2 separate regions of the Homo sapiens genome follow, and region 1 is linked to region 2. Evidence: fine-mapped expression QTL. A gene starts in region 2. The other region holds a variant in brackets. All regions are shown on one strand. Distances are between the middles of the regions.

Region 1 (15,856 bases), 58 kb after region 2:
GTCTGTAGTTGCATCCCCTTTATGAGATACTCTGAAAACCAAGCACTACTGAGTTACTGTCATTGCTTGCAGTAGGTAGGTTTAATTTGTATCGCTTTTATTCAACTAAGGCAAACTGCCTATATTAGAGTGGTTTCATTTTCTAAATCTATTTTGATGCCACTGTGTTCTCTGGAAAGTGCTCCCTGCTGAGTAGTGATATCTTCATGGCTATATCACTGACATGGATCACAGGAGCAGCCTTGCTGTGTTAACAGGTCCCTAAGGGTGGTCTCCTGCAGGCTGATCGAGACTGCCTGAAGGGAGAAGGAGGCAGGGCACTACAAATATTAGGACACCTCTGAGCTGGGCTCACAAGCCCCTGGAATGGAAGATGGTCACAGAAATGAAGCCTCACCAAGGCCTCTAAGTTTCTGTGGATGGGCCCCTACTGGCCACTCCCAGGACCTTAAATTGTAGGCAGCTGATGGCTTGCCTAGCTAGAGGGCCGTATGCAACAAGATTCCCTCAACTTGGTGAGGAACTGCTTTACTCCAGCCTCAGCTAGTCCATTTGCCTCCCAAATGCTGGCTAGAAGTAGTGCAGACTTGAGTAAGGCTCCAAGACGTATCCTGCTGTGTGAAAAGAAGCAGAGATGCTGACAGTAAGAGGCATCTCTTCAGGGCTAAGAAGATTACAGCTGGGCCTGGAATGACCCCTGGGTTTTCCAGCACATAGGCCCACCAGCTGTGGTGGTCAGCTGCAGGCAACAGCTCCGGTGCATCTTCCTGCAAAGATCTGCCGGAGGGTAAGCAAGTCCTTGCACTGTGCTGTGCAGCCACTGCCTTTTCCAGGTTGCCACATGACATTTTAATATCACCTGCAAACCTAAATCCAGTGAGTGCCTACAGACGACACACTTAACAGCTCAGGGCATGATTCAGAGGAAGCAATTTTCCAAAGTGAAGATAATTGTCTGTTAGTGTGAAAAGGCAAACACTTTTTTATTAGCATTGGAAATTCAAGGGAGATGTTGTTAAATCCATAGATGCAGCACTTCAGTAAATGGCTAAAGAACAATATCTACAGCTAGAAGGAAGGACTGTACAGATCCATGCCCATTCAGGGTTCACCCATAGAACTAGCTCTCTTGGAGGGAAGATGGAAGCTCAGCTCTGACCTCTTCCTGTTTACTTAATACGCAGCTCCTCAAAGTCCTGGTTCCTGTGCCCACACAGGAAATCCCAGAATTAAGAGTTCCCCGGTCTTCTTTTATTTACATGTTTCCCAGGTGACCTTAACCGGGGTAAAGTCTCATGCCTTTACTCTGTGACATTAAAACTTATATTCCAGCCCTGACCTCTCCTGGGGCTTTGTATAACCATTTGCCTATTTGAACCCTCCAGTTGGACATATGATAGGCACCTAGAACCTAGAATGGCCAAAATGGAACTCTTAACCATCTCCCCTTTTCACTGTTATATTACTGCATAAGAAGTCACCTCAAAACCTATCAATCATTTAAGATAATAATCATTAATTTTGCACACAAATCTCTAATTTTTCTGTGGTTCAATGAGGACTGCTCCATGAAGTGTCAGCTGGAGCAGCTGGAGAATCCCTTTCCAAGATGGCTTACTCACGCAGCTGGCAAGTTTTGCTGGCTGTCGCCTGGAAGCTCAGCCTGGCCGGTGGGTGGAGGGACTGTGGTTCCTCTCCACATGGCCTCTCCACAGGCTGTTATGGCTTGCTTCCTCATGACGTGGTGACTGAGTTTCAAGTGTGAGTGTCCTAAGGAGAGGAAGTGGAAGCTGCTAGTGTCTTAAGCCCTGGGCCTCGTAAAGCATTACTTCTGCCATGTTAATATTGGTCAAGCAGTCACAGAGCCCAGAGTCAAGGGGAGGTGACACAGACCCCAACTGTCCATGGAAGGAACCTCAAAGAATTTGCAAACATGTTTTAAAACTGCTGCATATCCCGAACCTGCTCCTCCTAGTCTCCTCCATCTACCAGTTTCTTAGGCAACTAGGAGTCATCTTTGACTTCCTTCTTTCCCTCAGCACTTCCATACAATCCCCATCAGCAAATTCTGTTGACTGTCCCCCAAAACACATCCAGAATCCTTCTACTTCTCTCATCTCCACTACAACACCCTAATCCAGACAATACCTTCATCTGCCAACTGGATGGCTGCTTGTTCTGTTGCAGTAGTCTGTGAATAACTCTCTCTGCCTCCGTGCTGGCTTCCTATTCACACAGTAGCCACAGCTACCCTTTTAAAACATAAATCAGATTATCTCACTCCTCTGCTTAAATCCATTCAAAAGTTTGCAACATATTTAGAAATAACTCAAACCCCTCATTATAGATTCCAAAGCCCGATGTGATCTGGCCGTGTCTGGTTCTCTAGCCTCATCTTGTACGACCTGCCTTCTCACTAGACTACAATATACACAAATGGTTGCTCCTGCCTGACAGCCTTTGCACTTGGTTTTCCTCTCTCTGGAAAGCTCTTCCCCCTAATTTTCCCAAGACTGGTTTCTTCTTGCCATTTAGTTTTCAATTGAAATGTAATTTCCGCATAGAGGCCATCTATAATCCCCAATCCTAAAGTAGCCACACAATCATCTGTTACAGTAACCTATTTTAATTTTCAACATAGCTCTTACCACTAGCTGCTACTTTTCATGTTGATTTATCTGTTCTTTGTCTGTCTCTTCCCTCTAAAATGTAAGCTTCATGAGGGCAGGGACCTTGTCTGTCTTATCGCCGCATCCCCAGGGCCTAGAGTACCAGGCAGAAGTTTGATAAATATTGATGTAGCAGGTAGAAATAGTATCTCCAGATAGCCAGCCCCCAACAGGATCACAGCATCTCTTAAGGTAGTTGAGGGAATAGAGAGGAAGCTCCTCTTTATACCTCCTGTGCGTCAGTGGTTTGTGCGTGTACCAGCAACACAGCTCTGGTGCATGGGGCTGCCCCGTGGAGGATGCTCCTCCATAGTGACCGGGTTTATGCAGCCTCCTTCCAACCCCCAGAGTATTCCCATCCCTAGCCTTCTTGTGAAATCAGCAAGACAGGATCACACAGTCATGAGCACAAAGTTGCTAACATGCCTGGACAGAATGGTGCAGCTCAGCTCATCTCACCTTCACATCAGTGCGGTCACTAACTCGGGTTTATGTGACATTCGAATTTTCATCTTATGGTTAGACTCAGAAATATAGGCCAAGCTCCAGTATAACAAAGTCCAAGTGCTTGTTTTAATGCTATTTTTTTTTTAATGATGATGTTCAAACTTTTGAAGAGAAATCTGAAAATGAATATTTAGGGCCCATCCAAATAAAGAAGTTTGATTAGGACTTTTTAAGAATCAATGTTATTAACAGGTTAAAAAAAGCAACACTGAGATGAAAAGCAAGTTTAACCATAATGAAGTTCTCTTTGTTTTCTTCAAAAATGCTTGTTAAACATTTTTTTAGTACTTTGGTATGGAGAATTGGCTGTGCATAGAATTGTTATTGAAATAACAAAACACTATAGTTGTAGGTAGTCCATCCATTAGGGAAGTGGTGGCTTGTTTGATTGGATTCCTTTTTATTCACTGTAATGAGATTTTTGCTTGGGGATTTAAATGTTTAAAGATTCAATAACACTGAAAATTCAAGTTCAAGAAATGATCGTGAGGCCCTGCTGGCCTGACCCAAAGTGAGATGATCGTGTGGCATTCAGGGGGTGTTTCTGGCAGTGCTGTTACTGTTAGAGAATGAGACCACCCTTCAAGGGGCTGCTCATGTCCACGGAGCAGAGTCCGTCTCTCACATTTGAGACTGGGGAAGGAAGGCATACATGACAGGCTGGGCCTCACCACACCCACCTGGACCTCAGATCCCTTGTGATGGGAAGCCCACTTGGGGAGTAGAACCCTTGGCAATACCGACTCAGGGTTGGTGAAATCGCCTTTTCATGACAATTGATGATTCTCATCCACTGAGGAAATTACATTTCACCTGAACTCCCCAGTCCCTCAGGCAATGGCCAGCAGAGTGTCAGAGGGCACAGCTGAAGGTGCGAGAGTCAGCATAGTGCATTTGCTGCAGGGTGGAAGCTTGCAACGAGGAAGGCTGGCAATAAATGTACATTATTATGTCTCCAGAAGTGCTTAGTTTTTATTTATTTCTAATTCTTTCTGCTTTTTTTTTTCACGAGCACTGCTTAGAACTCAAGTTCCTGGGATCAAACTTGTATCACACAGGCTGGAGAAGGCTGTGGAGAAACTGAGTCCTCCCAGGTCTCAAGGTGGGTGGAGGGAGCCTGCAGGGGTCTCCTTCCCTCCCCTCTTGCCTGTTCTGCCTGGTCAGAGCCTGCACACGAGTGCAGAGGGCTCCCTTAGAGAGGGCCGGGCTAGAGGAAGCTGAAGTTTCAGAATAAGCAGCTTATTCTGTGGCCTCCTTTCCACTACAGACTCCTTGAGGAGGAGTAAGACCCCAGAAGGACAGGTGAGTCTCACCTAGGCTGACCAAAGTCCAGCTCAGCCAGCCCGTGATCTATCCAAGACATCCGCCCACAGCAGTGAGAAGCTGATGCCACTCAAAGCCATTCTCAGTCTACATCCACGATGCTGGGAAAGAAAAACCAAGTTCAATTTACCAAAATATCTGTATTATCTATAAAAATTGAACTCTAATGAGTCACTGATACGGGAGGCAGCAATACCCGACTGTGCTGACATGCAGAAGGAAGACAGCTCTGTCCCACCAACCCTATAGCAGAACATTTGTATTGAGTGGCACGTGGGCTGAGTCATTTGTAAGGTCTCAAAAACCTGGACACTTTGGAACGTAGCAATCGGATGAACGATCTTGGAAACATCTCTCGGGACTCCTGGGCTGTGTACTTGAAATAGTTCTGGGGATGGGCCAGGACATCAAACAGAGCCTTGATAAGTTTCTTATCCTAAAAAGAACAGAATTTTTGTTACTGGGCCAAAATATTTAAATATGCTGACATTTTGCCCATGGAACTATAATGACCCAGTATTAGGCCGTAGCTTGCTTAGCTGAAAAACACTTGCAAAAATTGTTTCCTCTGATTTTTATCTTCTTTCCAGTTTTTATTTTTCCTAATTAGTTTTAAGAAGTATGAATTACTTTTATAAATAAAACTTTAATATGTAAAATCCTGTTTTCTTTTTCCCAACCAGATGAATGCAACACTGGGATTTGGGAGTATTTGTAGGATTAGTGATACCACAAGTGTTTATTGCTAATTATTTATAAGTATTTAAACTTTGGTGAATTTTAGGCTTGAAGTATACATAAAGAGCCAAGGATCCTCAACTATTTGGAATTAATAGAAAAACATTATTTGCTGTTGGTTTGGATTTATAAGCAAATTTCTCCCTGCCCCTCCACAAGTTTCCAAATTGAAAAATACAACTTCACTTGACAACACTAAAGACAGCAACCTGATTTTTTTAAAAATTAAGTCTGGTGAAGGTATAAAACTGACCTTGGCCCAGGACAGGCTCCGTGTCTGAAAGGTGGCAACAAGGAGCAGGAGGAGAAGCCTTCTCCAACAGTACTCGGGAAGCTCTGTGGATAACTGCCATGTCCACCTGAGCCAGGCACTCACCTTAAGTATTTCCTGATGGTTCTCAGATGCATAGAGCCTGCCATCTCGAACTATGTCTTCAATGAGTTCCTGGTAGTCCTCTGTTGGAATAAAGAACATGTTTTGCATTCTTATGATTTAGTTGCTTCCAAACTCACTCTTTCACTTTTTGATAAGGTTCTGAGAAATGCCCCTTCTGTGGCTGCTATCACTTACCATTCTGCTTACTGAGAAGACAGTCAGAAGAAAACTTCCACAGACTCCCACCACCACCTCTCTTCACCTACCAGCATCTGCACCCATCTTCCCCGTCCCCTCTTCCCTCAGACGAGCCTCTGTGCATCCAGTCCAGGCTCATCCCTCCACTTAGCATGCCAGGTCCATCTTCTCTCCCCAAATCAAAAGCATTGTTCTAGTAATTCTGCTCTTTCTTTCCTACATGATACATTTTTCTCTCTATTCGTCTCTCCCACCAGCATGCAAAAATGCTGTATGTCTCTGACTTTAAAAATCCCTCCCTTGACCTCATTTCTCCCTCCAGCTTCCATCTCACTTACCTGCTCCCTTTTGCAGCAAAAATCCTTAAAAAAATTGTCAGCACCCACTGTCTCTAATTCTTTTCCTTTCTTTCTCTCTTAAACCCAGTCCAATCAGCTTTGGCCCCCATCACTCCTCCAAAACTGCTTGGTGAGACCAGCAATGACCTTCATGTTGTTAAATCCCAACGGCCAGTTCTTGGTCTTCATCCTCCTTGATGCATCAGTAGCTTTTGACCTGGCTGGTCACTCCTCCTCCTTGATCCAGTTCTTCACTGAGCTTCCAGGACACCATGCTCTTTGGTTTTCCTCCTACCTTACCGGTTACTTCTCTGAGGCTTCTTTGCTTTTCTTCTTCTCTCTGACCTATTACCAAAGGAGGGTCCCAGGGCTTAGTCCTTGGTCTTCTCTTCTCTGTCTATACTCACTTCCTGTTGAGCTCATCAGGCTCTCCTTTCCCTCTCACCTCCCCACCTCCCGCTTTTTTCTCTAT[T/C]CTTGTATTATGTAAAACAATCAAGCTTCTTATCCACCAAGAAAGACTCTTCTCTCCTTTATTTGAATGGGGCTGGAGGGTGGAGAATTTGGCTGGTCGGGGAGGAAGAAAACTGTGTGTGTTCTCTCATTAATATTTTTTGTCCTGATATACACATTAAATGCAGTGCATGCTGTACTTCTCCAAATGCCAATCTTCCCCCTTTGAAGTCTAGCTTACTTCCTATAGGCATCATTCAAATTAAGCATATGCAAAGCACAATCTTTTCCAAATTCCAGACACAGAAAAAATGCCTCTTTGTATGCATATCATGTGCGACAAAGCCAAACACATTATGAGAACATCATTGAAATTGTGTGAGAGGAACTCTTGAAAAGTTTCTCTCAGTTAAGGGATGGCAAATGGAAAGTAATGGTATAATAGTCACAATTACTAATTCGATATGTTTACAATAGCATTGGTACTCCATTAGTGTGGTGTCTTTCTTTTATTTTAGTGAATATAAAATATGAGAATACATTTTCTTTTCATCTTGAATTCCTCTGCGGCAGTATCTCTCCTCTTTTTGTTGATGGGACTTACCATTAAGAATGTCGGTTGCTGTGCTGCGTTCTGGTGTAATAGAAAACTAGACAGCTGTTTGCCACTCCACCAAATGCTTCCCGACTGCTATCGTTTAAAAAAAATATTTCTTCTGCTTTTAAGAACTACTGTGTTTCCTTACTTGCTCCAACTCATTAGAAACGCAGGAAAGTTACAGGTAAGAATCCAGGCTCTGGAGTCCCACAGTCCTGGTTCAAACCTTGCTTTGCAACCTTGCCATGCTGGGACCTTAGGTCAGTTCCTTAAATCTCTAAGCCTGAATGGCCTCATCTATAAAATCAGGAAATAATCAAGTCTACTTTATGGAGTGATTGTGAGGAAAGCACCATGTAAAAGTCACTTCAGCATGTACCTGGCAGTCAGCAATGCTCAATGTGTGTTAGCCCCAGCTACAGTTCTCACCGTTGTCCAGCGCTCAGAGGGCCCGTCTGTAGCAGCCTCATGTGCACCTTCTAAATGTGATTTCTATCCTTCTGGGTTTGAAAAGAAGATATCAAACTTTTTGGAAATATATGTTTGAAAAAAAAAAAACTCTGAGTGAAGGCCTTGGGAGCTTCTCTGTGGGGAAAATAGCAGTTTCCAACTATTCTCTACTGTGACACATGCAAGACTCACTCTCGTGGGCATACACTGCATTATGCGTAATTTTCCCCAGTTGGAGCTACAACTCTTTTTCATTTTAAAAAAAATCAAGACATTTTCATGTGTCACAAAGGCAGAGTTGAGAACAGCCATATTTATTTTGAAGTCTCAGTGTCTTTTTGCTTTCTTCCTGATTCCAGATAGGAGAGGTTGCCAGTTGGTTGCTTTTGGGTAGATGAGGCTCTCTGTCTCTCTCAGCAGAGCCATGTGGGAGGCATTTGGGTCCACCCCAAGAGATACTAAAACTCCTTGTCTTGGGTGTTTGTTTGACATTATTTCAGGCATCTGTAGGACAAAGATGATGATCCGTGCTTTTGTTACTTTTTAGGAAAGCCATAGAATATTGTCTTCCCAAACAATTTTGGCACTTGTCATCCTAAAATCCTTCAGTGGCTTCCTCTAAGATTAAGTCTATCCTCCAGAGCTTGGCCCTGAAGGCTCTTCACAGCTGAACCCCATTCCCTTCTAGTCTCCTCTCTCACTGCCAAGCCCCACACACCCAACCCACTGACCAAATAAGACCATTCGTCAGTCCACACGTACACCGGGGTACTTCATCCTTTGACTTATGTCCTTCCCTCTTTCTGAATGTCCTTCTCCCCCATTTATGCTCAAAATGTATATGTTATTTCAAGACCCACATCTCTCAAGACTTTGCTCTATTCCTTCTAAAAGCTCATGTAAAATTAACTGCTGCTGCTGCTTCCATGCTCACATAGGGCTTTGGGCTGTTATAGCAGCTATAACAATATATATATTTTGTGTTTCTGTCACTAACCATGTTGTTTCCAGCACTTAGGCCAATGCCTGACATAGTAGATGCTCATTAAATATTTGTTGGCTAGGTGAACAAATAAGCTCAGGAAGAAACAAATGACTCCTCTCCTACAGGACTGTGTAGTCCTCCAGGACAAAGATCCAGTTCATTTTATGCTCCTAGTCAATGTTTTCCAACCAAGTCTCAGAGCTAGGTAGAGCCCCAGGGCTCAGATGGGCCACCTCTTCATCTAACATGAAGAAAATTAAAACAGAAGTCATCTGACTTGCCCAAGATCCCACAGTGAGTCAGTGAAAAAGCCAGGACCAGAACTAAGGTCCTTCCCTGCCTCAGGATTCTACCTAATAAAAGCCACAATCATCAGAAGTTAATATTTACTGAACAATTGCTATGTGCCAGGCACTGCCTCACGTCCTTTAGGAACTCTCACTGAACTCTTAAATAAGTCTAATGATTATCCTCATTCGCACATTAAGAACTTGAGGCTTAGAGATGGTGGCATACACAGTCACAGAGAAATCATAGCCAGGCTAATCAGTCTGACTCCAGTGCCCATGTTCTTACTCACCAAGCTATGCTCACTTTTAATATATTTTATAAAACATCTTTTCCTCCTATTGTCAGTGTCCCCAAATGCCTGTTAAAATTTGGCACTTGTGAGTCAGCAATGTCTTTTCCCCTCATCTTGCCTGCCTTTCTGAGCATGTGTGCTTGTCAGCAGTTTGCCAGCTGGCTCCGAAGTTGGCTCTGTTCAAAGCAGAGACGCTCTTTCCATGTGCTGCAGGCTGTGCTTACCATCATATGTCACGTATGGGACCTGGAACCCTCTAGCGCTGTTCCCTTCATTGGACTTGAACTGAATCCACAGCTTCTTTGACCTGGAGGTGAAGGCGATGGGGCGTTCGTAGGTCTGGCAGGTTTCATATGTTGTCACAGAATTGGATGAAGCTGCCAAGGGAAGTTGGAGAAGGGTGGGGTTCAAGACTCATCACTGATCAGGCATAGAGTAGATGCTCATCTTTCTAAACACTCAAACCATACAATAAGTTATGCTCAAAAGCTCTTCAGGCCCAGCTGAGCCATCATAAGTCAAAGGTCCTGGAAACAGAGTAGATTCAGCTGGTAATTGTGGACCCCCAGGGGAGGCTACACCTGAAAGACCTGGGGCTTGGCAAGCAGCAGCAGCCCAGGCTGTACCGTTCACTGTAGGAGCTGGGTGAGGGCCTCCCATTCCAGAACTGACCTGCTGTCATCTAATTGTCATCACCACCATTTGCTGCCTAAGATCAGGCAGCATGCTAGGCAATTTATGGACTTTGTCTCATTTAATCTTCTGAAAACCACAGAAAGTTGGTGCAACCGTTACCTTTTTAATAGAGAGATTAAATACTTGCCCAGGGTCATATAGCCAGTATGTGGTAAAACAAGGATTTAAACCTATACTTGACTTCAGACATTTTAACCACTAATAAGAAGAGCAAACGTTTATATAGTGGCTCCATGTGTCATCATCATTCTTTGTTTGTTTGTTTGTTTGTTTGTTTGTTTGTTTTTTGAGACAAGGTCTGGCTCTGTCTACCAGGCTGGAGTGCAGTGGCATGATCACGGCTCACTGCATCCTCCACCTCCCAGGCTTAAGCGATTCACCCATCTCAGCCTCCCGAGTAGCCGGAACCACAGGCATGCACCATCATGCCCAGCTAATTAAAAAAAAAAAAATGTATAGAGACAGGGTCTCACCGAGCCTGGTCACAAAATCCTGGTTCAGCCTCCTCCCTCAGCCTGGGATTACAGGTGTGAGCCACTGTGCCTGGCCTATTCTAAGTGTTTCACATCTATGAACTCCTTTAGCCCTTATAACCTTATAAGGTAGCAACTGTTACTAGCCCCATTTTAACAGATGAGAAGACAAGTGCAGAAAGATTCAGAATGTGTGCCCGAGATCATAGAACTAGTAAGAGGTGGAACTGGGACAGAGATCCAGGCAGTCTGGCTGCAGAGAGCCCCTCATTACACTGCCCATAAGCTGTGTTGACAGCAGTCTTCCTTTATGGACACTGGACCATGAATCAGGATAGGAGGACAGGTCCCCACCTGGCCAGGCTCGGTCAGTCTCCAAGCCATCAGTTGCAACTCAGTATGAGGCCTTGTCTGGGGCCAACACTGCATGATCCTCACTGGCTCTCTGGGTCCTTGTGGAAGAGGGTCCAAAACGCCCCAGTGAGCACAGAGGGGAAGACTGACCTGCAGGATCACTACCTCTGGGGCCCAGCAAGACGCTTCAGTGTGTGGCTTTCATTTAAATTTTGTTTCTCACCAACTCTATAAACTCATGTTCACCTCTGCTCTAATATGGAGGTGACGTTCTAGGCCTGCCTCCTCACATTGAAAGCCTGAGGAGCAGGTCATCAGGCTTCCCAGCTGGCCTGAGAAAGGGAGGGAGGGAGTGAGACGCACAGGTTTTCCGCATCACCAGATAGTCCCCACAGTCGTCCTCTATGGGCAGGAAGATCTCAGGGACCACGATCAGGATGCGGCGCTTGGGGGGTGGGTTGATGGTCCACGTACACTCGGTGTTGGCTGGGTAATTGCCTGGGTAGTTTGGGGATTCAATGTACCCAGTGAAATCTCCCAGCTCCCCTCCACATCTTCTGTCTGAAAAAGGAGATGCCCCGAGTTATGGCACGACACTGTCATCTCTGTCCTGACCACCGCTAGCTTGCCGAGCCCCGCAGCACCCCTGTTGCCACCCAGGAATGGGGCATGAAAATGACACCATCTGGGAATGAGTCTGTCCTTCCCAGAGGGCCCCCTGTGGGAGCCAAACCATTAGCTCCCCACAAGGAGTCTACCCCTCTGAGTTCCTGAGGCACTGTTTTCTCATTAGCCCGAAAGTGTTCACGGTCAGGGCAGGTAATTGTGAACAAAAGGATAAATTTAGCTTTCAGTATTTTGTTTACCAAGTCCAAGTGCCAGAAGAACCCATGAGACAGAACTTCTAGGTCTCTCAAAATAGGGGGAACAGAGCTCATTGCTCTGCAGAGACTATCTGACCCTTTTTCAGAGAACTTTGATGAAGACAGACATATATTTTTCACTTTTCTCTCTGGTTAAGACCACATTTTATTTTTTATTCATCTTTTAAAAAAATTATTATTATTTTGAGATGAGGTCTCTCTCTGTTGCCCAGGCTGGAGTGCAGTGGTGCGATCATGGCTCACTGCGCCCTTCACCTCCTGGGCTCAAGCCTCCCAAGAAGCTGGGACCATATGCAAGTGCCATCAGGCCTGGCTAATTTTTTTTCCTCATTTTTTTTTGTGGAGACAAGGTCTATGCTGCCCAGGCTGGTCTGGAACTCAGGCTCAAGCTATCCCGGCCTTGTCCTCCCAAAGTGCTAGGACTACAGGCATGAGCCACTGCACCCAACCCACATTTTATTTTTAAGGAAGGAAGAAAATTCTAATTAGCTATCAGTAGGTACAGGGCATGCTGGATACCTACGTCTGGCACCAAAGACAGAGGCTGCACACATGTGCACATGCTTGCACAGACCCCTCCTTCACCCACAGCACCCAGCTGCATCTTCATTCATCCCAGAAGTGTCACCCAAAGCTCTGAGAGCTCAGAAATGAGAAAGACACAGTCTTTGCTCTCAAGGAGCTCATTATTTAATACTGTCAGGTAAATCTGTGCAAGAGAAGATGTTGAAGGGATTACTTTTTCCCTCTCTAGTTACAACTGGGATTTATTATTACTAGAAAAAAAATAAATAGGCTTTTCTTCTTGGAAGAAAAGAGGAGGAAGGGGGAGCCATGGGGCGGAGAATTGCCTTCAGTCCTGAAGGGCTGCCCTAGGAACTGTGCCATAAGGCTCCCATGGGGCCAACCAAGGGCCAGGTGGTGGAATACAAGGGAACATTCATCTTGTTCTAACACTGTGAGCTTTCTAAAGTCCAATCCACCAACAAGCTAGGATATCATGAGGTAGCAAGCTTCCTGTCACAGCAGGTATTCAAGAAGAGACTAGATGGAAGGCTACTTATAAAGATGTTGTTAAAAGGACTTCCTTGCAATAGAGAGAAAACCAGATGATCTTTCAATCATAAAGTTCTAATGATGTACTGCCCCCCTCAGTCCCAAGCTCCTCCAGTTTAGGGGGGGCCTCCTTGCTCCTCTGACTGCTATCTTAAAGATTAGCTGGGATTTACTTTTGGCCTTTACTACAGAGTTTTTGTTGTAATTTTGGTTATAAATAGTGGCTTTAAAAAAAAAGCCTAGACAGCAAGTCCTTAAATGATTTGCTTCCCCCTTCCTATAAAACACAAACCGGTCTCCTCAGCATCCATCCGAGGCTTTGCCTCCTGGTCTGCCTGAGACTCCCTTCGGCACATTCTAGCCTGAGGTCCAGGGGTCTCCTCCCAAAAGGCCTTTGCTTGCCTCGATCTGTGCTTCCCCCAGCTGCTCTCTCAAACATAAGGCTCTTTCTCCTACTCTTTCCCCACCCTCTCCATCAAAACCTTCTCACACCCTCCAGAAGCCTTTCCTCATCTCTCGAGACAGAGTCAATCGCTCCTTCCTCTGCAGCCTCACTGCCTGAGCTCCTTGCAGGTTCAGCGATGCCGACTCATTCTGCCTAATATCAACCAAGTCCCAGCAGAATGCTGGGCACGTAACAGGTCCTCAAGCAATGCATGCTGATCAAGGCTGGACTAAAATTATGCCCCAGGGAGGAAATTAAGGCAAGTACAGCTTGTAAGTGTGCCTGAGGAAGTAGCCAGGATCAATAAAGATGAGTCGCTCTGCACAGTCAGGCCCTGCTCTCTCTCCATGCTGGTCTGCATGGCTGTGAGCTGGGCTCATAACATCTACATGGTTCTGAGTGAACCTGGGACCTCTGCCCCGTGCCCCCTGCTCTGAGGTGGACCCAGACACCTATCTTCTTAGCCAGAACTATGAAAAGCCTTAGAGAGGGACCTACTTTTACACTGGGTTATGTTTGTGGAGCCATCAAAGTCAGTCGTAGTATTTCCTGGGCAAGAAACACAATTATTTTTTCCAAATTCAGGCTGGTATGTTCCCACTGGGCAACGAATACATCGGTGAGTGGTGGTGTTGTAGAAATGTCCAGGTGAACATTGAACTGTGGGTCAAGGGAGGGTGAAAAGAATGAAAAAAAGAAAGATTATTTTTAATCAAATGCAGCACAAAGATTTTAAAGTTTGTGAAAGAAATGTTTATGTGCAAATGAAGTAGGGCTTTCCTACCAATCTGGGGCTAATCAACACTTAATTCCCTAAATAGGCAGTGTGGATGGGGCTCATGAAATAGAGAAATATAGAGGAACAAGATATGTGTGTATCTCCAAAGAGTTTATGGTTCATGCAGAGTCAGGCATCAATGATCACAACTCCAGTCTTCATGCAGAGCACGTCTGTGAGTATAGGGGGCAGGCAGTTGCAGAACTGAGGTTGGGTTTAGAGTTGGGCTCCCTGGGAAAAGGCAGCTGGAGTGGGGTTCTGGAGAAGGGGTATTGGGGGGAAGCTCTAGGTCAGGGCACTGAGATGGAGGAGGGCTAGAGGAAGGAACCAGGGGAACCTGTGTACCAACTGGCTCATCAGTGCCTGATCATCCCTTGTCAGCCTGTCCAAAGGGGCTAAGGTGGCTGGAGGACAGCTTGTCCAGTGAGTTCCAGTGCCCCCTGCACATCCTGCTGGGGCGAGTGGAGCTGGGACCTGAACCCCCAGCCACTGGGGCACTGCATCAGGCTGGGCTTGACTGGAGCCTCACGAGACTCCCATGATACTTAGAAGGGAAATCCAGTCCTAGAAAAAGGCAAGCTGCCAAGTACTCACCTCTGGTTTCACAGTCCTGAAAGGAAGTAGCTCCCTGATGTTTGGTGGCAAGGCCTCCTCCACAGGGGAAGCAGGAAGTTCGACCAGCTTCAGGCTGGAACGTGCCCAGGGCACAGAGCTGGCAAGGTGCAAAGCCATCTGCAGAATATTCACCAGGTTGACACAGACCTGGAAGGACCAATAGCCTTACGTGAGCAAGGCCTCCAGGCAGACCCTTGCTCCCCACTCTCCAAATGAGACCAACTTCAGTCCAACCTGTTACCCAGTGCTGACCGCAGTTCCCACCTCAGTCAGAGAGCACACAGTCAATGCTGTGGTGCTTCTGACCCTGAGTCAATGGCACATGAGTGCCTGCTGTTTACACACAGGGCTACACAGCACAGTGCAAAGATGGAAACCAAGAAGTCAAGTGTCAACTGCTTCCAAAGTATGGGAAGGCCTGGGTAGTTCTCAGGCTTAGGCCTACACACTGCCTAGGCATCCCCTGCAATGCAGGAGAGAGAGTTCTCTGCCCTGGGACCAATTTGGTAATTAGACCCAGAAGTACCCCTTTACCCAGCTGATTACAGCCTATTGATATAAAGAGTGATCCGGGCTGGGCTTGATGGCTCACGCCTGTAATCTCAACACTCTGGGAGGCTGAGGCAGGAGAATCACTTGAGCCTAGGAGCTCAAGACCAGCCTAGGCAACATGGCGAAATCTCTACAAAAAAATTTAAAAATTAGCCAGACATAGTGGCACATGTCTGTAGTCCCAGCTACTCTGGGACTGAGGCAGGAGGATCACTTGAGCCCAGGAATTCCAGGCTGCAGTGAGCCATATTTGCACCACGGCACTCCAGCCTGGGTGATCCAGAAAGACCTTGTCTCTAAAAAAAAAAAAGAGTGACCCAAAGAGTCTCCCCTGTTTTAACAATAATATTTACTAAGTTAGATCTTACACATGTTATACCTGGGACAAGAAACACAGTCATAAACAAACAAAAGGATTTCTAAAAGCACATGTTCCTCAGGAATTAGTCATTGGCAAGATGCTATCAAAATCTGCTATCTATCTCTTATATTCTTAATCATCTCTCCTCTATTAATCATAGTGGTCTCATTTTCCCCCATAAGTTATAGATATGATGGCATTTCAAGAACACACACCATTGGGAGGAGCCTGGAGCCTGTCAGACCTGGGTTCTGATTCCACATCCTCCACTTGGCTGTGTGACCTTAAAAGAGTCACTGTAGCCTCGTGGAGTTGTAATGATTATATGAATTGTGAATAATTCATATAATATACTTAGCATAATGCCTGGCATAGGTAAATATTCAATACATGGTAGCTATAATAACCATTATTACTAATATTCTTA
Region 2 (15,856 bases):
CTCTGTCTCAAAAAAAAAAAAGTTAATTTCTAGAAATTCATATTTTCATGTTCTGTTCCCTCTAAACTGTGGCATTAGAAAAAATAACCAAAACGGTATATGATAGAAGTTGTTAGGTTATTCTTTTTTTTTTTTTTTGAGACAGAGTTTCACTCTTGTTGCCCAGGCTGGAGTGCAATGGTGTGATCTTCCTCAACACAACCTCTTCCTCCAGGGTTCAAGTGATTCTCCTGCCTCAGCCTCCCTAGTAGCTGGGATTACAGGCATGCGCTACCATGCCCGACTAATTTTGTATTTTTAGTAGAGATGGGGTTTTTCCATGTTGGTCAGGCTGGTCTCAAACTCCCAACTTCAGGTGATGTGCCTGCCTCGGCCTCCCAAAGTGCTGGCATTACAGGCATGAGTCACCGCACCCGGCCCAGGTTATTCTTAACAGGTAATTTAATTTTAACAAAGGTAGTAATGAAAAATTAAATTTCCACTGATGGTATTTCAAATACGGGTAAGGCCCCACAACTCTCACCATAAAAGTGTGTGATATCTGTTCCAAATATACAGAAGACCAGGCATGTACCCAACTGGATGCAGGCACAAAATGGGCAGAGGGAACTATATCCCATAACAGGTGTTATCTATCTGAGGATCAGAGAGCTCATCTAGCCTCAGGCTTAGAGAAGGTCACAGAGTAAAATCATATTTGAAAAAGGATCAGGCCACGCATGGTGGCTTATCCCTATAATCCCAGAGTTTTAGGAGGCCAACATGTGAGGATCACTTGAAGCCAACTTGAGACCAGCCTGGGCAACATAGTGAGACCCAGTGTCGACAAAAATAAAAATTAGCCAGGTTGATGGTACACACCTGTAGTCCCAGCTACACAGGAGGCTGAGGCTGGAGGACCACTGGAGCCTAGGAGATCAAGGCTGCAATGAGCTATGATCGTGCCACTGCACTCTAGCAATAAAAAAAACAGAAAGGACCAGAATCCAGGACTCCTGCTTCCTACGTCAGTTCTTTACCTCTGAACCTCGGGAAAATGAAACTGATCTATTTAGTTTCCTACTTCAGCTTCAGAAGCTTTGGCAACAATACCTAAGAATGACTTGGGAATTTTAAGTGCTAAGTAAGTATTGAGTATTTCTTTTGAAGGATATATTTTAATAACAAAAAGATACTTGAGTGCTGTGCAAAAGTTGTGCCCAGCTGGAGAGAAAGCAGGAAGGTTGATTTTGGCTGACCAGTCATTACAAACAGAGCTAGACCTAGTCAGAGGTTAACCACTTAAGGAACTAGGCAACACCTCCCCCTAGTGCCAAAAGTAACACATCATTAGCTTTAAATCACCCCAAACACAAACTAGAGCACTCCAACTACTCTTAAGTTTTAAGTCAGCCAGCATAAGTCAATGAAGACTTAAAGATAAAAACTGGACAAAATGAAAGGCCCAGAAAACAAAAGGTAAAACTATATCTAGGCCCTCACAGATACTGGAGGCCTCGTAAAGCCATAATTCTGGTGAATCATAACTTGCCTGCCCCGTAAAGTCAGTTAAAATTTTTCAGTGCCAGCTGGGAACTTATCCCTAGAAAAATGCTAAGCTGCAGAAAAGAAACAAGGGAGAGTGGGAGAGAGGGAAGAAAAACCCCAAGCAAGCCTTATTCTCAACTGTTTATTTTCTTTGTTTCTGTTTTTTTTTTTTTTTTTTTTTTGAGACAGAGTCATGCTCTGTCACCCAGGTTAGAGGGCAGTGGCACAATCTCAGCTCACTGCAACCTCTACCTCTGCGGCTCAAGCGATTCTCTACCTTAGCCTTCCGAGTAGCTGGAATTACAGGCGTGTGCCACCATGCCCAGCTAATTTTTATATTTTTAGTAGAGTCGGGGTTTCACCATGTTGGCCAGGCTGTTCTTGAACTCCTGGCCTCAAGTGATCCACCTGCCTTGGCCTCCCAAAGTGCTGGGATTACAGGTGTGAGCCACCATGTCCTGCCTCAACTGTTTTCAAAGCCAAAGCTATTTTTACTAATAACCAGGGGTTAATGACATATGGTCCTGTCTGAGTCTGAAATAATGAAAAGTTAGTGAAAAGATTAGTGCTAACCACTTGAATAGTGAGTTCATTTGCTACTCAAAAGACAGGCATTGCATTTCATTACTGATAACAGAATAAACTGTAAGCACTGAATAAATTTGGAAAATTTATAGAAGTAACATAAAGATTTATTTGAACATTCTTTTTTTTTTTTTTTGAGCTAGGGTCTCGCTCTGTCACCCAGGCTGGAGTGCAGTGGCGCGATCTCGGCTCACTGCAAGCTCTGCCTCCCGGGTTCAAGCGATTCTCCTGCCTCGGCCTCCCGAGTGGCTGGGATTACAGGCACCCGCCACCAAGCCCGGCTAATTTTTTTTGTATTTTTAGTAGAGACAGGGTTTCACTCTGTTGGCCAGGCTGGTCTCGAACTCCTGACCTCAGGTGATCCGCCTGCCTCAGCCTCCCAGAGTGCTGGGATTACAGGCGTGAGCCACCGTGCCCGGCCTGAACATTCTTGTATCATATAAAGTAACTTCCTGATATAAAACCTTTAAGAATATGGCCAAATCGCTTGGTTAATATGACACCACTTACAGTGGAACATAGAGGTTCACAAGAAGTTCTCAAGAACACACTTAACAAATATGAGACTGAACCTAAATGCGTATCAGGGAAGAACAGACAGTGGCATCAGAGAAACTAAACATACTCAAAGGCTGCCTTTTCTTTTTTAAAGTCAGGTTGGAATACTGTTAACTGAATGAATTTAATCTTGCTTTCTAACTCTTTGATGGCTATTTAGCTATGAAATCAGATACACGTGAAAGCTCCTACCATTTGGAACTATTTTTCCTAAATTCCTATCCCATCCATCTTCCACCGTGGTTACAAACCATAAAACATCACAATTCTATGGGAAGGAACACATTCATCCTGCTGTAATACAACTGCATCCCAACTGCTTCATGGCACACGTAGAAAAAGCTATTTGTCAGGTCTGCTGGGATAAGCAGAGAAGGCTGCTGGTGGCTAGTCAGTCAGGATCCCCCAGTCATCACAGGCCTGCCTGACTGCCCAAGGACTGAACAGGTCAATATCTTGGCACAACTGTAACTTCTTCATTTACACCAAATGGGAAACTCTGACTACATAGCTCATTTCCACTTCTTCTTGAGCCTTCTGACACTTTTAAACATAGCTTCCCATACTTGGCAATACATCATCAAAACCTACAAGTTGTAAAAATTATAACCCAGACAAACGAGGCTTGCTAACCTTCCACTGAAAAGCAAGAGGGAGAAAGGTCCCTCACCAAAACTTGAGGGAGTACAGCAAGATAGCTATGGGTAGTTTAGGTGCCACAAACCCAGTCATATGCTCCCATGAAACTCTGCCTACATGGGTCTTAGTGTTTTGGCTGTATACCTTTAGGCCTGCAGGCATCATGCACGTAGGGCCTCACTCTCACTTTTTCAAATGGAAGTAGAATTTCACATTTTTGCTTCAAATGAAATACTTAAAAAGAAAACTATGCATTTGATGAACATTCTGGGATAACACTGACAACCACAGAAACAAATGTGACAGGTAATTCAGTAATCCAGATACTTACCAATCTTTCTGAGATATGTTCTTATTATAAATATGCCCAGAATTTTCTTTATAGGGAGGGCAGATACATTTACATCTGACATCCTCGAAATTCTGTAACCAAAATGGAAACAGTATAGTGCGTTGACAGTTTATCATCAATATTTTTAAAAACTGTACCATATACATTTTGCCAAGCATCCTCTTTAGAATACCAAGTATTCTAAAATCATTCATTTAAAACTTTAACAGACACAGTTTTTAAAAGCCACAGTCCTTTATGGTAATGCCAATGAATCATTATATATTACATGTAGTTATTTTGAAATAATACCTAATACATGATCTAAGACTTATTAACCATATTTATGGGTCACATGACAATCAAATTATGTTAATGTTATTACCATCTATCTGCCACTAGAAAGACACATGGTAAGCAGATAGTTGTGCCTGTAAATAAGAATATTCATTACTAAAGGATGGGAAAGAAACTAAAAATTATTCACAAAAAAGGTCACAATTCTACCTATCATCCTTTCACCCTCTGGTAGAAGGCACTGACATTGATAAAACGGGTTGGGCCAGAGTCCCGTAGAAGGGATGAAATGTTAGAGGCACCCACCTACAACTAGAAAGGAAGTACACACAGGAAGTAGCCTGACTCTGAGATCAGTTTAGTATACTCTTCCCAGGAAACTTTGCTTCTAATTCCTGGTTGACAGACAGAACAACTACCAACAAAACAAGTTTCAAGAGGTGGAGGAACAGGTGACTAAGTATCTGGATAGAGAAAAGAAGAGATGCTTCCTCAGCAAAGGGGAATCTGTTTGAGAAGGAAGTGGCTTATCATTCCCCAGAGGACCTTGCCCACTCCTCCTATATACAGTGATATGTCTGGCAGAGCTATTGACAATTCACAAACGTATTCAGCAACCACTTAGTGAGCATTTGCTCTGTGTTAGATCTTGTGCTCAATAAGGTGGATTCAGATAAGCATAAGACATGGTTTCTGCCCATAACCAGGACACACCCTAGTAAAGGAGACTGAAAAATAAATACATGATCACAATACATAAAGTTATGAGGCAAGATATGCAGAGGGTGCCAGCAATGTTTTCAAAGTCAGGAGACGTGCTGCTGTCCCTGTTTCTGGTAGGAGGTAGAGATGGTTTCAAAAAGAATCTCTGAATCAAAAACATTTGCCTGCCTGTAACCTTTCCCCACTCCTACATTTAAAGATATTATAAATTAAAGCTCTTATTTTTAAAAACGCAATGTCATTCTGTTTTCCCATCATACTAATGTGAATCCCTTCTGTTCTCCCCCAATGATGAGCTAGCTCATCAAAGAGGAAGCACAGGTATGCATGGAGCTAGGGCAGGTCTGGAGAGCTGGGGCACCAGAGAACAGTATGAGGGAACTAGAAGGTCAAGAAATCGAACCAGGGAGGCCACAACCTCACCTCTCTTGCAGTTTGGTTCTTCCCTTACCCACTAAATTATCAGGAAGAGAGAAAGCAAGAAAGGCACCAAGGGACTCGTGGAGGGAGTTAGGTGAGAATATGAAGCAGGTGAGAGATGCTCCGTAGGCCCTATTGGGAGGGAAGTAGGCCAGGAGGGGCAAGTTCCCACCACAGGAAGGGAAGTGTTCAGGGGTGAGCTGAGCTGAGTCGGCCCTTGACAGGGAAGGCTCTGTCAGATGGGGGCTTCCTATCATTCTGGCTTGGGGCATGCGGGGCCTGTGAGGCTGGCGGAGGGCGCAGGTGGGCTGTCAAGAGCTTAGGGTGGAAAGTTAAAGGCTCTCGGAGGTGAAAAGGTTGTCAAGTGTAAGATGCGTGCAGCCGGGGCTGGGAAGGGAAATGTTAAGGCGGTGGGGGGCTGCTGTCCGGACTGTGGGCACTGTCGGGGCTGGGGACGACCGTGGGGCGCTGCCTGCCAGGCTGTCGGGGCTGAGGGCGAGAGTGCCGCCGGGCAGTCGGGAGGGGCGGGGCTGGTGGCGGCGGGGGTCTGCCGGAGCTGTGAGGCCAGGCGTATGGCTGTCAGGAATGGGCCAAGGAGCAGGTTGGCAGACCCAGTTTCCGCAAGGCCGGTGGTAGGGGAGGAGCTTCCGTCAGGAGCGAGGCTGGGCGGGACTCACCTTGGCGGCGTCTGACAGCTGCGCCAGCAGCAGCACGGAAAGCGCCAGGCACGACAGGCTGAGCAAGGAGCCAAGCCGAAGAAGGCCTCCCCACAGGGTCGCCATCGCTGGGGGCCCAGCGGTCCCACAGCCCGGAGCCCCCGCGACCGGCTCCCGGCTCGGGCTCAGGCTCAGGCTCAGGCTCAGGCACAGGCTTGGGACCCGGCTGGGGATCCTCCGCCCGCACTTCCGTCTGGACGCGAAGGCGTCACCGGGCGCGCCGGGTCAGATGCAAAAAGCATCCGCCCCGGAACCGGTTACCAGTGCGAAGGGCCGGGAGGCTGGGCAGTCCTGGTGCCCGCCTTGGCCTAGCCCCGGCCCCGGGACGGAAGGGGGCCTCTGGGGTGGCAGCCTGGGCCCAGTAGAGCTTTGCATCTCTTGGATATCTTTCCCGGGCGCAGAAGCTGCGGGGCTTAGGGAGTCGCCATTGCGCTGGAAAGTCCTCCCGCCCACGGAGACCCCAGCAAACTCCGAGTGTCACACAGTCGCCTCTGGCGACCCGTGCGGGCCGGAGCCGTTCGCGCACAGGCAGGGCGGGTGCTGAGCGTGGAAACGGGGCTGGAATTGGCCGAGCCATGCCTTTCCGGGATGCCCACCGCCAGTCAAAGGGTTGGGGGTGGTCTCTGCACCTTAAGTACTAACCTGCCGCCCACGCGCCTCCTGACCACAGCACCCCGTCGGCTTTCTAATTCTGTGAGCTGCCCTCGTGGGCGTGGCCTCCCTGTGGAGCTCCCCATGTGCCTCCCCTTGGTCCAGCCTGCAGCTAGGAAGTGGGTCACAGCGACGGGGCTGGGCTGGGCCAGGCCAGGCTCCGGGAGATGTGGAATTGGCGAAACAACTGCCCCAGTAGTATCCTCCGCCTAGGACTCCAAGAGGTGGCGAATTGGGGCACTACGCCCGGGTAAGGCAGTGCCTGTTCAGGGCTGCCGACCTGTCTCCCCAGGGCTGTCATTCTCAGCAAGTACTTTAGGAGTGCCTTAGATCGGCACATTCTCCCATTGAAATATTTTTGTTAGTGGAGACAAGGGAGGTAATGGCAAGGACACGGATCATCACAGCCCCTAGGGATTTGTTGAATGACCTTTGGCAAATCACTTCCCTTCTCTGGGCCTGTAGTTCTTGGCTGAATATGAGGGAATGGATTTCAAATTATGCTCCATGTAATACCCGTGTTTTTACCTCTGTAAACAGATTTTTTTGTTTTTTTTGAGACGGAGTCTCGTTCTGTCCCCCGGGCTGGAGTGCAGTGGCGCGATCTCGGCTCACTGCAACCTCCGCCTCCCGGGTTGACGCCATTCTCCTGCCTCAGCCTCCCTAGTAGGTGGGACTACAGGCGCCCGCCACCACGCCGCCCGGCTAATTTTTTTTTTCTTTTTCTTTTTCTTTTTTTTTTTTTGTATTTTTAGTACAGACAGGGTCTCACTGTGTTAGCCAGGATGGTCTCGATCTCCTGACCTTGTGATCCGCCCGCCTCGGCCTCCCAAATTGCTGGGATTATAGGCGTGAGCCACCGCGCCCGGCCCCAACAGATTTTTAAAGATGGTCTTTTCCCAATTTGTGGAAATGTTTTAACAGAATGCTCTCAATATTTTTCGCCCATGTGATTCTTAGATTCATGTGAATCTAACACAACGTATCTGATACTGTTCCCAACAGGAACCAGGGTGGCAGGGCTAGATGTCCTCTCACCAGACTGCCCAGTGAAGGTGCTGTCACTTTGATGAATTATCAAGGCTTTGTAGTGGGTCTTCTACTGGACAAAGGACAAACTGGAGACTCCCTGGATCAAATGTGTTGGTGAGGCACTGAATCTGATTGCTGAAAGGTGATTCAGCTGCAAGTTAGGCATCAGTTTAGGGTTTTCTAGGCTTGGCATCTAAAGGGAGTGCCTGCTGTAGCTGAAACCTCATAGGCCTTCTCTTCCTTCCGAATTGTTTTCAAGGCCTTGGGGGTACAGAGACTTAGAGAAAATACATAGTTGTGCCTCAGACTGATGGGCCTCATCTGTTTAATGGAGAAACACCAAGCACACTCAGTCTGGGCGGAATTTTAGAGCTCCATAGTATAACCACTATCTAGCTACATGTGGCAATTGAGCATTTGAAATGTGGCTAGACTGAATTGAAATGTGCTGTATAAAATATACACTTAATTTCAAAGACAATATTTTTAAAATGTAAAATATTTCAGTAATTTAAAAATATGGTTTAAATATTTTAGATATGTTGGGTTAAATAAAATATATTAGTAAAATATTTCACTTGTTTTTTGACCTCTTAAATGTGGCTGCTAGAAAATGTTATAGTGCTGTCAGGAAGTGCTGTTCTGGAATACAGAATGTGGCTGCCGTGAGTGGAGTGTGACTATGAGATAGTCGCCTGACTGGAGACAATGAAGCCTCAGGCCAAGGTAAGAGGGCTGACAAGGAAGAACTGGCACAACTAGAGCCGAATGTTTGGGGGAGGTATATGTCTGCCAAAAAATGAATATAATTTCAGGTGACTCAATAGAAGTGGAGGGATCAGTTTCTCTTGTTCTGCCCTGCTCTTATCTAGGTAACTCTTACTTTTCCTTTAGGTCAGGGTTCTTCTAAGCCAGAAAACCTTCACTGACTTAAGTGCACTCCTTTCTATGTTTGCATAGATCTCTTTCTTAACTTTACCCCATTATAGTAAAATTATGTTTTCACATTTGCCTTTATACCCAAACCTCCACCAAAATATTGTGAGCTCTCTGAGGGTAAGGACTTTGTCTTATTATTGTTATACCTGGAGACAGATTAAAACAATATGATGTTTGTGGGGACCAGGGAAAAGGGGAATGGGAGAGGCTCCTCTGGTTAGTCTAAAAGAAAAGTATCAGGCACCTACTTGAATCCTCATTTGATTTCTTTCTGACCATGAGAGGGGATGCTGAGATGCCCAAAGATGTGCAAATGGCGGGATCCGGCGCACCATAGTAGGCAGGGGAGTGAAGATTTCTCACCTCGGGTCTTCCTAGACCTTCAGGTCACACGGGAATTGTTCTGTTTATAGACGGCGCTGGCCTTAGTACTCACTCTCCCTCTATTTTCCTTGCTTCCTTATAACTAGGTTTCCCTACTCACTTCCTCAAAAAGAGTGATGTAGGTCCACGTGTACCCTCCCAACTGGCCTGGGTCCTCTCCCTTCTTTGTAAGGCCTGAAAAATTCCCTGGTGGGGGATGGTTAGAAAAGGAAGAGGAACCTTCTTTGTAAGTGTGCAAGTCAGAAGGGGAGGGAGAAAAGTGACAATTTATATATCTGGGACAAATATATCTTGGACCCAGGTTTTGCCACCTGTCTGCATCCCCCCATGCCCTTTCCCCTCCAGTGATCAAATAGCTCTCTGGATGCCCCTTAATTCTTCCACCCCATCCATTCTGATCTACCCAGCACTTGCCTAGGCAACACCAGTCCAGGAGAACAAATGGAGTTATGCACAACATTGGTGATTTCCTTGTATTGTGGCTCCAGTGGTTATGGCTGGGGACACACACATCCTTCCAGTTATTTCTGAGCATACTCTGGAAACGTCTTATGAGCCCTCTTCTTTATTGTGTGCACCCACTAGGATGCTCCCTCCTACTCAGCCCTGTTTAGTGGGATTTTTCAGCCCACTGTAAAGCCTACTGCTGCCTGTAAAGCCACCTAAGTGCATCACTTGCTGGTGTTCACCATGATAACAACAATTTATGGGGACAGAATATGTTTCTAGAGCTGCTGGTGCCACTGCTGATGTTACTGGGTTCCCTGAAATAAAACACCACAGTGCAGGTGAGTACCAAAGTGGGGAGAATTTTTAGTTCCTTTTAGAGGTGCTAAATCAATATTGTTGATTTCCCAGTACCTTAGAATATTTAATGAAAACAGGTCAGGTGCAGTGGCTCACGCCTGTAATCCCAGCACTTTGGGAGGCCAAGGCAGGTAGATCACTTGAGGTCAGGAGTTCAAGAACAGCCTGGCCAACATGGTGAAACCCCATCTCTACTAAAAATACAAAAATTAGCAGGGCGTGGTGGCAGGCACCTGTAATCCCAGCTACTCCGGAAGCTGAGGCACCAGAATCGCTTGAACTCAGGAGGCGGAGGTTGTAGTGAGTCGAGATCATGCCACTGCACTCCAGCCTGGGCGCATGGTGGCTCATGCCTATAATCCCAGCACTTTGGGAGGCTGAGGCAGTCAGATCACTTGAGGTCAGGAGTTCAAGAACAGCCTGACCAACATGGTGAAACCCCATCTCTACTAAAAATAGAAAAAGTTAGCCAGGCGTGGTGGCAGGCGCCTGTAATCCCAGCTACTCAGGAGGCTGAGGCATAAGAATCCTTGAACCCAGGAGGCGGAGGTTGCAGTGAGCTGAGATTGCACCATTGCACTCCAGCCTGGGCAACAATAGCGAAACTCCGTCTCAAAACAAACAAACAAACAAAACAAAAAAACTTAATGAATACAGTCCCTCCTAAGATTTTCAAATAAATGAAATACCACATTAATCATATTGTTTTATTTTTATCATTACATTAAAAATCAAATAGTATCACTAGGTTTATAATGAAAAACAGCAGACCCTGTCCCAGCCCTCCACACTCTCAGTTTCTACTCCCTAGATATAATCTCTATTCACCCAGCTACCTCTTCTGGTATTTATCTCCGTATTTCTAAATAGCATGCTTATACTACTAATTCTTAATTTTTCAGTTTGGGCCATTATTTTACTTTTTCTATAGGAAATAAGATATGTGTTTATACTCTGAAGACTGGTAATACACACATGTATTTCTCCATCTTCCATCCTTCAGTTTATCTATATCACCCTATATAGGTAGAGTACTATTCATTATACTATTATAAAGGTATGTAATTGATCCAGTTAGCATAATATGATTATATTTCCTTTATTTTGATTGAAGTTAACTATTGCCTCTTTCTCCATGCAACTTTCTTAAGTACCTAGCATTCAAGTGTCTATAATCAATTTATTCCAAACTGTCCTTTCAAAACATTGAAACACATCAAGTAGTCTATCAATCAGTTTATTTTTTAAATTGGAGACAACTCTCTAGGAGCCCATCATCCTCCTTCACTGTGGACTAGTTTTTCTCTAAGCCTACTGCACAGCTTTTGTCCTGAAATAATTTTATCCTTTCTACCCTGTTTTCCACTTCTTTTTGTTTTTCTGAAAGATTTCCACCTTCCAGCTTTTCTTTTGAATTTTAAAATTTCTGTTATGTTTTAAATTTGCCAGAATACTTTCTTGTCAACCTCTCTTTTAATTAAAAATATTTTTTATTTTTGTAATTTAAAGGTTTATTGTAAATTGACAAGTACAAATTGGATATATTTATGGGGTACAAAGTGATGTTATATGTATACAATGTGGAAAGATTAAATCAAGCTAATTAACATATCCATCACTACAAATACTTCTTTGTGGTGAGAATACTTGACATTTACCTTCAGCAATTTTGAAATATACAGTACATTATTATTAACCATGCTATACTCTTTATCTCAAAAAATGTATTCCCTTTATCTAACTGAAACTTCGTACTCTAACCAACATCTCCTTGTTTCCCCTACCACCCCTTCCCCCTACTCTCTGATAACCATCATTCTACTCTGATTCTGTGAGTTTGTTTTAGATTCTACATTAGGAATCATGTGACTTTGTCTGTCTGTGCCTGGCTTATTCCATTCAGCATAACGTCCTCCAGGGAAGCACTTTCTTGTCCACCCCCTTCCCCTTTTTAAATAGCAGTCTGTTCCATTTGGTGGATGCAGTATCTTATTACTCTAAGAATATTGCTAATGTTTTCTTTTGTTTCTTGAATTGTCTGTGTTGAATTTTTAAGGCTTGTTTCTGTTTTGTGTTGGAAGCTTTTCTTAAACGTCTAGAGATCCTTGGCCATCCATTCATATGTAAGAGTGGGGCACTAGAAAGCCAATAGAAAGTTCTGTGTACACTGGCCAGTGAGGTGGCTCACACCTGTAACCCCAGCACTTTGGAAGGCCAAGGCAGGCAGATCACTTGAGGTCAGGAGTTCAAGACCAGCCTTGCCAACATGGTGAAACCCCATCTCTACTAAAAATACAAAAATTAGCCGGGCTGGTGGCGCACGCCTGTAATCCTTGCTACTTGGGAGGCTGAGGCTTGAGAATCTCTTGAACCCGGGAGGCAGAGGTTGCAGTGAGCTCTCCAGCCTAGGCAACAGACCAAAACTCTGTCTCAAAAAAAAAAAAAGTTCTGTGTACATACTTAGGACTTGTAATTGGTAGGACATACTGCAGTATTTTTCAAACTTCTGGTCGCAAACCCATTAGTAGTTTGTGAAATCAATATAATCAGTTTTATTTCCCCCAAATGACAGAACAGAATAGAAAACACCACCTCAGAATACATCTACATAGAAAGAGAATTATTTTATGAAACTTTGGTTTCTTACACATATCATATATACATATTATGTACTGGTTTGATCCCATAAAATGGGAGTTTTTTTTTTTTATTGTGGGTGTTTCTTCAAAGAAATTTGAAAAAGTACAACTTAGGATAATCAAAGAGATCTCCAACTGTCAGGACAGGTAGGTCTTTTCTCTTAGAGAGGTTAAGTTCCGGCCCAGTGCGGTGGCTCATGCCTGTAATCCCAGCACTTTGGGAGGCTGAGGCGGGCAGATCATGAGGTCGGGAGATTGAGACCATCCTGGCTAACATGGTGAAACCTCATCTCTTCTAAGAATACAAAAAATAAGTCAGGCATGGTGGCACGCGCCTGTAATCCCAGCTACTCGGGAGGCTGAGGCAGGAGAATCATTTGAACTCGGGAGGCGGAGATTGCCACTGCACTCCAGCCTGGGCGACAGAGCAAGACTCCGTCTCAAAAAAAAAAAAAAAAAAACGGAGATAAGTTCTCCTGGAGTAAAATTCTCTAAACTTTTGCCTGCATGCTAGTCTGATAGACAGTACTCATTCATTCAGGTATTGGTTGAGGACTTACTATGTGCCAAACACTGTTCCAGGTTCTGGGTATACATCAGACAAAACTGTCTCCTGGGACTAGATTCTAGTGAGGGAGATAAACAGTGGGTTATATAGTATTTAGATCTTGCGCTAGGTAACACAGCAACAGAAGGGAAAGCTGAACATATGCATATAGATGCTGGTAAGAGGGTGGATGTGGTGGATGAATGAAGTAGAAAACAAGGTCATCATCTGAGAGTGAAAATGGGGAGGAAGTGTTGGAAGAAAAGAGAAGGTGTGAAATAATTTAGGACACAGCACAGCAAACTATAGCCTTTGGTCAAATCCTATTTTGGTGCAATCCACAAGCTAAGGATACTTTTTTACTTTTAAACGGTTGGGAAAAAAATTTAAGATGATATTACATCATAGCATGTAACAAATAAATGCAATTCAAATTTCATTTATTTACATATTGCCTCTGGCTACTTTCATGCTACAGTGACAAAGCTGAATAATTGCAAAAGAGACTATGACCTGCTATGCCAAAAATATTTATCTGGCCCTTTACAGAAAAAGTTGGCTGACTCCTGATCTAGGAGGATGGGAAGGTATATAGAGTAGGGAAATATGATTATCAGGCAGCATTAAGGCCTGAAGGTTATGGACATGAATTTAAAGTAAGACTAAACAGCATAGTTGCTGCACAGAAGTAGGTACAAAGGCAAAGAGCTGGCTTTAAAGTTGTGATTTTGCAAACTGAAAATGACAAAAAGGGGTAGACTAAGTTAAAAGTACATGCAAGTTGCATGATTATAATGAGTGATCCTGGGATTTAAGTTGATTATGACAGGAACAGAAGGAACTTGGAGATTAGGGACAATGAAAAGGTGGTAGTGAAAGGAGTGTTGGAGTTAAGTTACTAGATGTCTGGAAGACAGACTGTGGTGGTCAGATAATGAGATAGATTATGGAGGGGTTACAGTTTTTGGTAATAACGAGAGAGATCTAAGGTATGACTGAGAGTGAATGGATGAGAATAGCAGAGAACAAGGTCAGTGGAAAACTACTCTTCAAAGAACCTATAGTCAGGGTGTTGAAAGATTAAAAATTGCTAAGAATTAAATCAGGAGTAGTGCTGCGGGAAATGAAATGAGCAGTGAACTAAACTTACTGAGAAATGAGAGGGGATGACCCAGGGGTTTGTAGATTTTGTAGATGATAGCAATGAAGAGAAGAGATATTATTTGATGGTATGGAACTCAAAGCTGAGAGTTTTAAGGGAAGATAGGAGACGTGTCTAGAAGTAGTAATGAGGAGCAAGAACATCATCTACCCCATCTCCAGGACCAGTAATAGGAGGACTGTGGGAGAAAAAAATCACCTTGAGAGGGCTGTAGTGAAAGCAGTATCCTAAGGTAGCAGCCAAGTTTCAGACTGCTGGGATCCAAGCCAGGGAAAGGTTTCTGACTCTTTAGAATGCTGAGCTTTAGGCTGGGCACAGTGGCTCACGCCTGTAATCCCAGCACTCTGGGAGGCCAAGGTGGGCAGATCACTTGAGTCCAGGAGTTCAAGACCAGCCCAGGCAACATGGTGAAATCCCATCTCTACACAAAATACAAAAATTACCCAGGTTTGGTGGTTCATGCCTGTAGTCCCAGCTACTCAAGAGACTGAGGTGGAGAATCACTTGAGCCCAGGAGGTTGAGGCAGCAGCAAGCCATGATCACACCACTGTACTCCAGCCTGGGCAACAGAGTGAGACCCTGTCTCAAAAAAACAAACAGAATGCTGAGTTTTAAATCCCTATATTCAGTAGGATGTCTCCCCTCAGCTCCCAGTTGTTGTTGGTGGCTTCAACTAGTTCATCTTCCCCAGGAGATAATGAATGAACAAATGAATGAATGAATGAATGAGTTTATAAGGGGCGAGGATCTCAGGACTTCATAGTCTTTCAAGTAATCATCTTGTTTTTAGCCCTCTACCTACTACCTCTTGCTTTTCAGATAACTGATGCCTCCAATTCCTAAGCCTTTTCTGGGGTTCTGTGGTACAAACATGCTTGCTTATTGCTAGTAACACTCCACCAGCCCCTGCCCCAGACTTCTGCTTTCTCTGGTCTACTCAGTTTGTTCCTTGTTTTTTGCTTTCCGGATTCAAAGATTTTGTTGACATTGCCTGGATGCTGCCATCTTTTGTCTCATATTCTTTGTCCTTAATCATTTAACATTCCTTTACTGTCATTTTAATGGCATTTCAGGAGGAAGCCATGTTTCTAGTCCACCGTTCTTTTTTGTTGTTTTTGAGACAGAGTCTTACTCTGTCACCCAGGCTGGAGTGCAGTAGCATGACCTCAGCTCACTGCAACCTCTGCCTCCCGGGTTCAAGCGATCCTCCCACCTCAGCCTCCCGAGTAGCTGGGACCACAGGCATGCGCCACTACAACTGGCTAATTTTTGTATTTGTAAGTAGAGATGAGGTTTCTCCATGTTGGCCAGGCTTGTCTTGAATTCCTGGCCTCAAGTGATCCACCCACCTCAGCCTTCTAAAGTGCTGGGATTACAGGCATGAGCCACCACACCGGGCCAATCCACTGTTTTTTAAAAAGTTGTCAAGAGTTTTGTTAAGGGGTCAGACATGTCTGACTGGTTGACTTTTCCCAGAATGCTGCTTAGTCCCTCAAACACACAAATTCCTGATGGGTCCACCCACTAGGCTTCTGGTATACACAGACAGATCTGAATCCCAGTGGTGGAAACAACCTAGGCTGATTCTGAGTTTCCCACTGCATTTCTTCTTCTAATTGTCCCTCTTTTCCATTCCTGTCCTTTCCCTCATCCCTTACCTGCTGAAAATGAATCTTACCATTTCTAAAATTCCACTCTTCCGGGGGCATCCACAGCTGGATCCTCTTCTTCACTGCCATTCCTCAGGCCTTAGAACAGGTCCCCTTCTTACACCCTTGTGCTCCAACTGGTCTTTATGAAACCTGTTCACTTCAATATACTTTTAGGCCAGGCTCACGCCTGTAATCCCAGCACCTTGAGAAGCTGAGGCCGGTGCATCACTTGAGGTCAGGAGTTCG

The links.
Region 1: its variant is fine-mapped to the expression of TMEM9B-AS1 in esophagus muscle (GTEx, PIP 0.96).

Annotation. Positions count from the first base shown.
Region 1 is chr11:9,016,263-9,032,118 of GRCh38, forward strand. It overlaps SCUBE2 (signal peptide, CUB domain and EGF like domain containing 2), which reads right to left. Exons shown (of 23, transcript NM_001367977.2): 18 at 14,496-14,663; 19 at 13,622-13,783; 20 at 11,102-11,299; 21 at 9,440-9,592; 22 at 5,614-5,693; 23 at 3,214-4,935. The coding sequence ends at 4,783. The region is part of intron 1 of NRIP3-DT (NRIP3 divergent transcript); the gene reads left to right. Among named protein-coding and RNA genes, the nearest start is that of NRIP3-DT, 20 kb to the left of the region's middle. The variant T/C (reference allele first, on the strand shown) is at 6,622.
Region 2 is chr11:8,958,452-8,974,307 of GRCh38, forward strand. TMEM9B-AS1 (TMEM9B antisense RNA 1) reads left to right here and starts at 6,224. Exons shown (of 5, transcript NR_073431.1): 1 at 6,224-6,697; 2 at 7,453-7,593; 3 at 8,090-8,205; 4 at 9,388-9,590. TMEM9B (TMEM9 domain family member B) reads right to left here and starts at 5,991. Exons shown (of 5, transcript NM_020644.3): 1 at 5,758-5,991; 2 at 3,641-3,732. The coding sequence starts at 5,862. RefSeq lists silencers at 5,455-5,644, 5,685-6,184.